Regions from separate parts of the Homo sapiens genome. Here all the other regions are reported to be linked to region 1. The links are microRNA targets in miRTarBase. Many come from high-throughput screens and were not tested one by one. Region 1 holds a microRNA gene; each other region holds the end of a gene's coding sequence. Distances are from middle to middle.
Evidence for each region. Region 1 holds the annotated microRNA hsa-miR-4735-3p (AAAGGUGCUCAAAUUAGACAU, at 2,266-2,286, opposite strand). A microRNA usually pairs through its seed, bases 2 to 8, with sites in the 3' UTR of a target mRNA and lowers its output. Matches are read on the target gene's strand: a 7mer-m8 pairs with bases 2 to 8, a 7mer-A1 pairs with bases 2 to 7 and ends in A, and an 8mer does both.

Region 1 (3,188 bases):
ACTCAAGTAAAGAAAGTGAAGAGCATTCCTAAGATAATGGATTTATTATGAATGGAAGTCCCAGCTCCAGAAATACTAAATGGAAGAAATAATAGAATGGAAGCCCCAGCTCAACAGAGAAAAAAGTGATAAACAATCCCACAGAAATGTGGGTACAGAATGAAGCTTGAAGATGGTTCAGTGGGAGGGGAGGGAGTTCCTGAGTAACTCCACAGAAGAGAACCACGGAGGATCTGAGAGTGTTTCTTTCCACAGCATAACCTGGACCTTCCCCACAGGTACACTGTCTGATGTGTTTGATTACCCTGAGAAAGGCTTTATAGTTCTACCACAGTGCTTGGTGAAACACTATCAATAGGTAACTAGAAAACTTAGCAGACAACAAAATGAAAATGTGTATATACTTAGAAACAAAGACAGTTGAATAAGAAAATGATAATCATAATACTCATTACTCAGTTCTGAGCAAAACTGAAATAGTCATATAATATGCATACATGGTATTGCTCTAAACAAAAATAATTACTGTATTGGAAGAATGGGGAGTGAGATGTGTGTTGTGATGGTATAGTTAGACTGCTAAATCCTTATATTTCATAGTAGGAAGTCAATGAATACTCCCTCAAATTGAGAAACTGTGAAACTGACTATAGAGAATAAAAGCAGGGAAAAACACTCAAAAGGCTTCAAAGTGTTTCTTTCTGAAAAGTACATCATGGAAAAGCTGACAAGGTGAAGGCAGGGGCCAGATGGTTTTTGTTATTGTTGTTTTACTTGTTCTTGTTTTCTTGTAAGCCTTCTAATAATAGCTGATTTTTGAGCTATGTACAATCATTATTTTGGCAAGAACATTTTTTAAAGAACAGGTAATTTCTTCTCAAGAAATCATCTTGACTATAGCTGCTACAGCTATTTACAAAACGTACAGTTTTTTTTTCAGAAAATTAAACATTGAAATATTAGTATATATGTGATATAGTCATTCTTTTAGCATTTTTACCTTTCTGTACCACATAGGCTTAGAATAAGATCACATAAATGCTAATCTGTGGCAAGAAAATATGGGTCAGATTGTAGTGTTTCGCTTTTTTTATTGTCATAGAAAAATTATTCTTACATGATACTTGAGGAGTAGGAAATATTTATTCTTAGAAGTTAATTTTGTAACCTCCAAATTCCATATGCCTATAAATATCTAGATCTGGACCAGTTTAGTAAAAAAAGTTCTATTTTTATATATGTGAAATACACATGTATATTCCAAACTAAGCAAAAATAAAACATTAAATTTAATAAAGGGTTTTACTTGCTCTTTACTGAAAATGAATGCCACCGGGTGAATATTGCCCCATTTTTTTCTGTCCCTTATTCCCTGAGGCTATTCCAAAATTTCAATATAATGAAGTTAACACAATACAAAGTCCTCTCAGTGGCCGACTCACTCTAGAGACATTCCACAAGTATCCTAAGGAGATGGGGGAAAGATGGAGGGGAAACTGTTATTAGTAAGAACATATTTTCTTTCATTTATTTATAAAAACTTTCCAAAAAGAGAAAGAAATCCCACTCAAGCATAAATTAACTTCAGTTCATTTTAAAAGTATTTACTAAAAGCTGTCATAAAAATATATCAAATTCACTTTCTTCCATTACTTATGTTTTGAAAACTAAGTCTTTCATTTTGTTGTTCTCCTATTTAAATTATAGTAGATGTGTACAACATGAATAGACAGATGACAGCTGGATAATAGGCATCACAAATGCCTCTATGTTCACATTTCAGGAAAATTATGTCTTTCATAAGAAAATTCTGTGGGAGAACCAATAATACTGCCAGTTCTTCAGGTAGACTTTAAAAAGTCTTATCATATATTTCAAAACCAACATGTATGTATTTAATATTTACTTATCAACTTCTCTCCATATGCCAGTACAACGCCAACTTTTTTAGGAAAATCAACAAAGACCCTCATCTCCACCTTCCCTTCCTACATCTTAGTATCCCCTTCCAGCAAGCCTAATGGCCAAGAAAAACAGGGTTCAAGTTCCTGGCTCTGCCATTTTCTAGCTTTGTAATCACCAACGGATTACTTAACTTCTCTATGCCTGTTTCTTCAGCTGTACAATGGGGATAATATTATGCTTTCTCGTTGGGCATGTAAAGTACTTGGAAGAATGCTAGTAAAAAGTAATGTTATATGCATGTTCTCTTAAGGAGCTAAAGATCCATGAATAGATTTCAACTTGACATGCGCAAAAAATGCAATGTCTAATTTGAGCACCTTTGGTATTTTTGATGAATACCGAAGGTGTTCAAATTAGGCACTGCAATTTTATGCAAGCAGGGAAGATAAACTTGCAGAAGTGGAGCTGAGATTTTTAGAAGTTTGGAAGGGTTGGTTAGAATGATAGAGGGCAAGTTTTGTAGCTGCCTTATAAGGTCAAGTTCCCAATTTCTTCAGTCCTGGCCACTACCTTAGTGCCTCCACAAACACCCAAGATACAGCAGCATTGACAGCATTGACTAGGCTTGGTTCAAACACTGAGTCCTTTGAATTATTCTCTCACCACCAATTCATTTACATTTCAGTGATGCATCAGGCAAGGATACAGATGAACCATGTCACCTGCTTCAGCTTGTCCAAACTAAATAAAGTAGAACAAATAGAGTACAATAAAGGTTTGAAAAGCATAAAATACAGAAGATAATACAGATTGCATAGGATTATAAAATATAATTATACAGGATTATAAAATATAATTATACAGGATTATAAAATACAGAGATTTGCATAGCGAAAAAGCCTTCCTAAAATGCTGAGATAAAGATTATGTAAGTGATAACTGGTCAAAAAATAGGTGAATATCATGTGACATGTAGAGGTGGAGTGGGATGTCTTCAGAGGTTGTTATTCATTCCAGAGAGAGGAATTGTCCAATGGCAGCCAGAAGGAAGACCTGAGGCAGAAAAATTAAAACACCTCTCAAGAGTTCAGATGAGAAAGGCAGGCACATTAATTAGAAGCGTAATAATTAAAATGGACTCATGAGGACAACAATTTGAGCCATCTATGAATTGAATCAATGAGATCTGTAGTGAACCAAGCTTTAAAAAGAATTTAATAATCCAGCCTTGGGTGGCTGGTTGCATGTTGGTACCATATTTAAACACAAAAAATACCAGAGGG
Region 2 (3,100 bases), not on the chromosome of region 1:
TTAAAAATAATTTTAAAATAGAACAGCTTAGAGATAGAAACTAAATTATTTCCAATTCCTACTGTGCCCCAAACAAGGTTCACAAAAGGGCTGTCCTCCCAACAATTTTCTGAATTCTATATATTCAGCATTAAATTCCATGATAAAGTTGGAAATCCATTCACCATTTGTAATACATATTGATGCATTTAATAAAATTGCATGGGCCGTATCTTTTGCATTTCTGTATCCTAGTATTAAGTACAGTGCCTACCACAGGCCAGGTTCTCAATACTTGAATAAATGACACAAAAATAGCCAGGACCAGCAAGTTTTTTCTGGGTGGGCTTCATAGAATCTCTGTACTTGCTGGAATCACCATGAAATCCATGGTCTTCAGCTTTGCATTTTCAGCCACATAGTTATATTGAGTTATCCTCAGGTGAGCAGTGAGACCCTTGGGAGCGGATTCATGGTAGGGTGGCTTTGTAATGTGTCACCTTGGTGAGGCTATGTTTCCCGGAACTCTCTTCCAGTAAGATGGGCCACAAGAGACATTTTGCTTGATAACCGGAGGGCGGAAGTGAAGCAGCAGCACATTGTTTTTACACTTGGAAGGTTGGTGCTGGGGCACCAGGCGTTGTTGCAGTTCACACGTTGCCATGTATCTGCTAGATCACCTCGTTGGTGTGGGCAGTAGTCAGGCCTGCAGCCAGGCCTGCAGCTGCTCCACCTTCCCCAGGATCATCCTTTCAGCTTCTCTAATTCCTGGGCCAGATGCATATTTAACTCTGTGAGGAAGGGCACCAGCTTCTTCTGCAGGACACCCACATCATCGAAGCTGGAGGTGGTGAGAGACTGACATGGGTTCCAGGCCATCCTCGTGGGTTCCAGCTCGTGCTCGTGGGCTCCACTGTGTCCTCGGTCTCCCACACTTTACATCCATCTTCCCTTCCCGAGTGCCTGCCCTGCAGACTTCAAGCTCCAGCATTAGATGCAAAGACAACAGCCTTACAGAGACTGTTTAACCAGCTCCCACAATGGCATGCGGTCAGATCCCTATAATAAATCCCTTAAAATACATATATACATAATCTTTATCTTAGTGGTTCTGCTCCTCTGATTGTACCCTAACATAAATGGTCAGCAGAAGCTTAACTCATGAGTCTAAATGTCAATCAAATAAATTTCATATAGATCATTGTCAAAATTACCAGAATACTGGGGTTGGGTGGTTGGTTCCTGGGGGAAACAAAGCAGTATCAGTCTATCCAGTCTTGACTAGGGCTGAACTAGTTAGGATGGAATAAAGGAAGGGGTGGGGAAGGTGGCAGAGGCTGGACTGTATGAGACAGAACTGGGAAATGGCTAATCCATGTCTGAATTACTTAAAGCTGCAGGGCTGGGACTAGGGTAAGGCAAGGGAGGCACACAGGATACAAAGTTTAAGGAGGCACTCACTCAGTCCTGGCCCTGTAAAGCTGGCTAACAAATTACAGGTCTAATCTTTTTGGCACTTTATGAATGAAGAATTGGGAGAGAGTGAGGTAGGGCTGAGCCAAGACTGGCTCTTGGGCAGGACTCGAAGCAGGAATTCAGCCTCCTAGAACACATTCAGGCTGAGGGCAGGAGCCAAGCACAAAGGTGATCACAGGGCAGGAGATGCACGTTGTCAGGAAAGATGAGCCAGGCTGGCAGCTTTAGTTACAAAGACTGCTCTGGCTGAAGAGGGGGAGTCAGGGTAACAAGCAAAATGGACAGCAGCCAGTGGGGAGATATATCCTGTAGGGTTTGAGGAATCCTATGCAGCACCTGGGGTCTGCAGGAAACCCAGTTTCTGTATGAACAGATGCTCTGACAAGGTGACCCCATCTACATTGAGCCTTGGCACTCCCTAAACCATGCTAGAGACAGGAATGTAAGGGATTTATTATAGTAATTATAGTAATCTGTGTTTTCAAGGTCACCGAAAACTCCTGTTAGTGCATACAGGATTACAGGTTACAGTTTAGTGGAGTAAAGAACAAGGGCTTTAAAAGCTGGGTTTGAGTCTAGGCTCTACTAACACCAGCTGTTCGACATTGGACAAATTAATGAGTCTCAGTTTTCCCATCCACATAAATGGACAAAATCAATGTCTTCCCAAAAATATTATTTTAAGGATTAAATAAACTGGGTCCACAGAGGAACACACCAAATAGCAGTTCCTTTCCTTATTTATTCAATTACATTTTCAATTGCTATCTCCCTGAGGAAGTATGTAGAGACACTGCCAGGTCTCATCCAGAAGCCACTTACAATTACTCATGAACATGGCTTGTTTAGGTTGTTTTGTGGTGGCTTTAATTATATTACCTTTCTCCAACCCAGCTCCCCCACCCTTAAAATCCAACTTCTTATACTCAGGCTCTTGGGGAGGAGAAGATGCACCAACTTTCTACTCTTTCTCTTCCTTTCCCGCTTACTTCTTCTAGAAGCTCAAAGTACTCTTAGGCCTGCTCTTCTGGTTTGGTAGTAGGTTTTTCCTCCTAGGGTTGATTCACACACAAGCCCTGGCAACCAATCTAGGGTCCAGCCCCTAGTAGATCAGTGTTGTCTCTCATAAAGCCAGTCTGCAAATATCACCTTGAATCCTACAGTCTGTAGAAGCCTCCAGTCTACTGCTTTCTAGCTCCAGGTTTTTTAAGGTCTTTGGACCTAGGGAAAAGGGAGCAGGTCTGTATGTTGAATGAGGTTTGCTATGTGCGCAATGGAGCATTACAAAACCATTTCCTACTATTCTGTGTCCTCCATCCACTTCCCCTTAATTATCCTTTATCTTTTTTTATATCTTCTAAAAACTACCATTATAGACAGCTTGTACATAGTCAGATTATAAGCTCCCTGAAGGTAGGTATCCTGTGTCTCCTGAAGGGTAAGCTTTGCAGGGCTCATTGTCCTCAATGCTGTGCACCCAACAGGAACTCAATCAATACTTCTGTAATTGGCCAAGTATAGATGAAAGGGTTTCTAGCCTGGTGGGCTGGTTTGTAGGAGCAAAGGAATCCAAGTGCTTAGGCCAATAGTTTACATCGCCAGTGTCTGGGGCTCTATGCAGGGTCTGTCAATATTCTGCAGGAGC
Region 3 (3,100 bases), 50 Mb from region 1:
AGCCTTCAATTATTCAAGTTATCTTCGTGAACATGAAAGAACTCATACTGGAGAGAAACCCTATGCATGTAAGAAATGTGGTAAATCATTCACTTTTTCCAGTTCTCTTCGCCAACATGAAAGATCTCATACTGGAGAGAAACCCTATGAATGTAAGGAATGTGGCAAAGCCTTCAGTCGTTCCACTTACTTGGGAATACATGAAAGAACGCATACTGGAGAAAAACCCTATGAATGTATAAAATGTGGCAAAGCCTTTAGATGTTCCAGAGTCCTCAGAGTCCATGAAAGGACTCACAGTGGAGAAAAGCCCTATGAATGTAAACAATGTGGTAAAGCCTTCAAATATTCTAGTAACCTATGTGAGCATGAAAGAACTCACACTGGAGTGAAACCTTATGGATGTAAGGAATGTGGTAAGTCGTTTACTTCTTCCAGTGCCCTTCGAAGCCATGAAAGGACTCATACTGGAGAAAAACCCTATGAATGTAAGAAATGTGGTAAAGCCTTCAGTTGTTCCAGTTCCCTTCGAAAGCATGAAAGAGCTTATATGTGGTAAAAAACAACAACAACAAAACACCTCTGTCAATGTAAGAAGTGTGTTAAAGCTTTCAGTTATTCTAGTTTCATTAGAACACGTGAAAAAATTAAAAACTCAAATTAGAGAGAAACCCAACACATGTAAGGAAGATTAGAATGTATGCAATTTTCCTAGTTCCCTTCTAAAACTTAGAAGGACCCGTCCTGGGAAAGAACGTCATAAAATACGAAAAATGTGTTAGAACACTTTATTTTCCCAGCCGCTTTCAAATATATTTTTATCAGTGGTTCATTGTTAAAGAAGGTGTCTATACTTTAGATTTTCAGTTTTTTGCAGGGAATCATGGAGCTGAGAATTTCACAGATACTTTATAAGCCATAGTACATGAGCTTAATAGGCTGTGTTTTGTTTCTCATCAGTTAACATAATTTTTGTCTATTCATTTAAAAATTTGTTGGATCCCTAGACTAAGTTGAAATGTATTTCTAATAGTAGGCAATTTTAATTTTCATGTAGTTGTTTAATTGTTCTCTAATTAATGGACCAATGAAAAATGAGTTCATGTGTGTGTGTGTGTGTGTGTGTGTGTGTGTGTATTCTACCTTTTTATGGGAAAACTACTTTTTTGTTGTAAAGATTTTCTTCTGTTTTCTTTGCTAATAAAGAATTGTTATTAATTTGCATGTATGTGAAGTTTATATAGTCTCATGTACATTGTTATTTTCATTTTCTTTCCTTTATTCTGTCATGAGTTTTGGCTGTTACTTGCATAGTTCACTTTTTTAAAAAATGTTATGTTTTTAGAGAGGGTCTCACTTTGTCAGCTAGGCTGAAGTGTAGTGGTAATAATAGTCTTAGCTCACTGCAGCCTCAAATTCCTGGGCTCAAGTGATTCTCCCACCTTAGCCTCCTATGTAGCTGGAGCTACAGACACATGCCACCATGCTCAGCTAATTATATAATTTTAAAAATTTTTTATAGAGATGGGATCTCGCTGTATTGTCTAGGCTGGTATTGAATTCCTGGCCTCAAGCTATCCTCCTGCCTCAGCCTGTCTACATGTTGGGGTTACTGACATGAGCTACCACACCTGGCCCACTTTTTACTTTGAATTAAGAAGAGAGAACTGTGATTGGACAGTATGCTTGTCTAATCTGCGTGTGAAAGCATTCAGTCTCACCATCAAGTATATTGTGGATTTTTCATAAATATTCTCAAACAGGCTCAGGAAGTTTTCTTGTGTTTTTTATTTATTGTTTCATGGTAAAGGAGTGTTGAACTCTTATGACATGTTTTTTTCTGCATCTATTGAGATGATTTGTGGTTTTTGGCATTCTACTGATAGTCTATTACGTTAACTGGCTTTCAGATATAAATATATTATGGTTATCTGGGTGAAATTTGTCTTCATCATGGAATATAAGTATTTTATCTACAGGTTGAACATCTGTAAACCCCAGATTCCAATACCAAATCTGAAATGCTCCGAAGTCAAAAACTGTTTGAGCACCAGTCTTATGCTCAACAGAAATGCTCATTAGAGGATTTTTGATATTTGGATTAGGGATGCTCATCCAGTAAGTTTTCTGCAAATATTCCAAAATGTTAAAAGTCTGAAATCCAAAGCACTTCCGTTCCCAAGTATTTCAGATAAGAAACACTCAACCCATATTGATAACGTTCAATTTTCCAGTGTATTGTTGGGGCCTTTTGCATTTATAGTCAAATTGGTGTGCCCTAGTATACCATATAGTATAGCATCATCTGTATATATAGCATGTCTACATGTATACTTATATGTGTATAAGTAGCTATATAATATGTGGTATAGTACAGTTTTGTAAGTTACTATGAATTATGCATAACTAGTTTATATTATGTGTAATTAGCACTACAATAAATTGTATATTACAGGATTATGGCATTATAACATACTATTTTGATCTTATCAGTCTGTAGCCTAACATATTTCAGTTGCCTACCATTCCACAGATGCATTTAAACAAACCAATTGCATCCTTATGAGAACCAAGAAGCATCTCACGTTCTTGATACTACAAAGCATTCCCCTTACACCCTGTTTGTTCTATCTGCTCCGTAGTGCAAGTCTTGTGTGGACCAGCCTCGTTTACAGAACCCTCCCTTTTTTGTCTATGAATGTATGTAACTAATAACTTCTCTCAATCTTATCTGTACACTCATGGGTGTCACGTGTTTTTCCCAGTAGTCTTAGGGTCCTAATTTTTCCTGTCACCCATGAGACTGTGAAAACAATTGGCATTACCAACAGAATGAACCAACCATGACTGATGATATCTTTTCAGCTTTAACTACCTGCTTTTGTCTAACTGGTTCCATAATATAACAGAAGTCACCTGAATTAGAAACAGCAATTGATGGTGGACTTTCACTTTGGTCTACACAGTGCTTTGTGTTATCAGCTGTTGCCACCTCTTCCCACAGTAGAACTCTCAACTCCTAGACATGACTGGTTGACCAGCCGTTCCCCAGGAGGATGTATGTTCCACCTTGACCTGTGTTTGGCAGGCAGTTTCCAAG

Region 2: the mRNA of MBD1 is a reported target of hsa-miR-4735-3p. The part of its 3' UTR that is shown has no 7-base or 8-base seed match.
Region 3: the mRNA of ZNF670 is a reported target of hsa-miR-4735-3p. Seed matches in the 3' UTR shown: 7mer-A1 at 1,440-1,446.

Annotation. Positions count from the first base shown.
Region 1 is chr1:196,580,152-196,583,339 of GRCh38, forward strand. It overlaps MIR4735 (microRNA 4735), which reads right to left and starts at 2,330; the gene lies at 2,262-2,330. The region is part of intron 1 of KCNT2 (potassium sodium-activated channel subfamily T member 2); the gene reads right to left.
Region 2 is chr18:50,268,865-50,271,964 of GRCh38, forward strand. It overlaps MBD1 (methyl-CpG binding domain protein 1), which reads right to left. Exons shown (of 17, transcript NM_015846.4): 16 at 2,605-2,676; 17 at 1-954. The coding sequence ends at 2,637. Among named protein-coding and RNA genes, the nearest start is that of CFAP53, 3.9 kb to the left of the region's middle.
Region 3 is chr1:247,034,908-247,038,007 of GRCh38, reverse strand. ZNF670 (zinc finger protein 670) reads left to right here. Exons shown (of 4, transcript NM_033213.5): 4 at 1-3,100. The coding sequence ends at 559. All of the region lies in intron 1 of ZNF670-ZNF695 (ZNF670-ZNF695 readthrough (NMD candidate)), which reads left to right. Among named protein-coding and RNA genes, the nearest start is that of ZNF695, 28 kb to the right of the region's middle.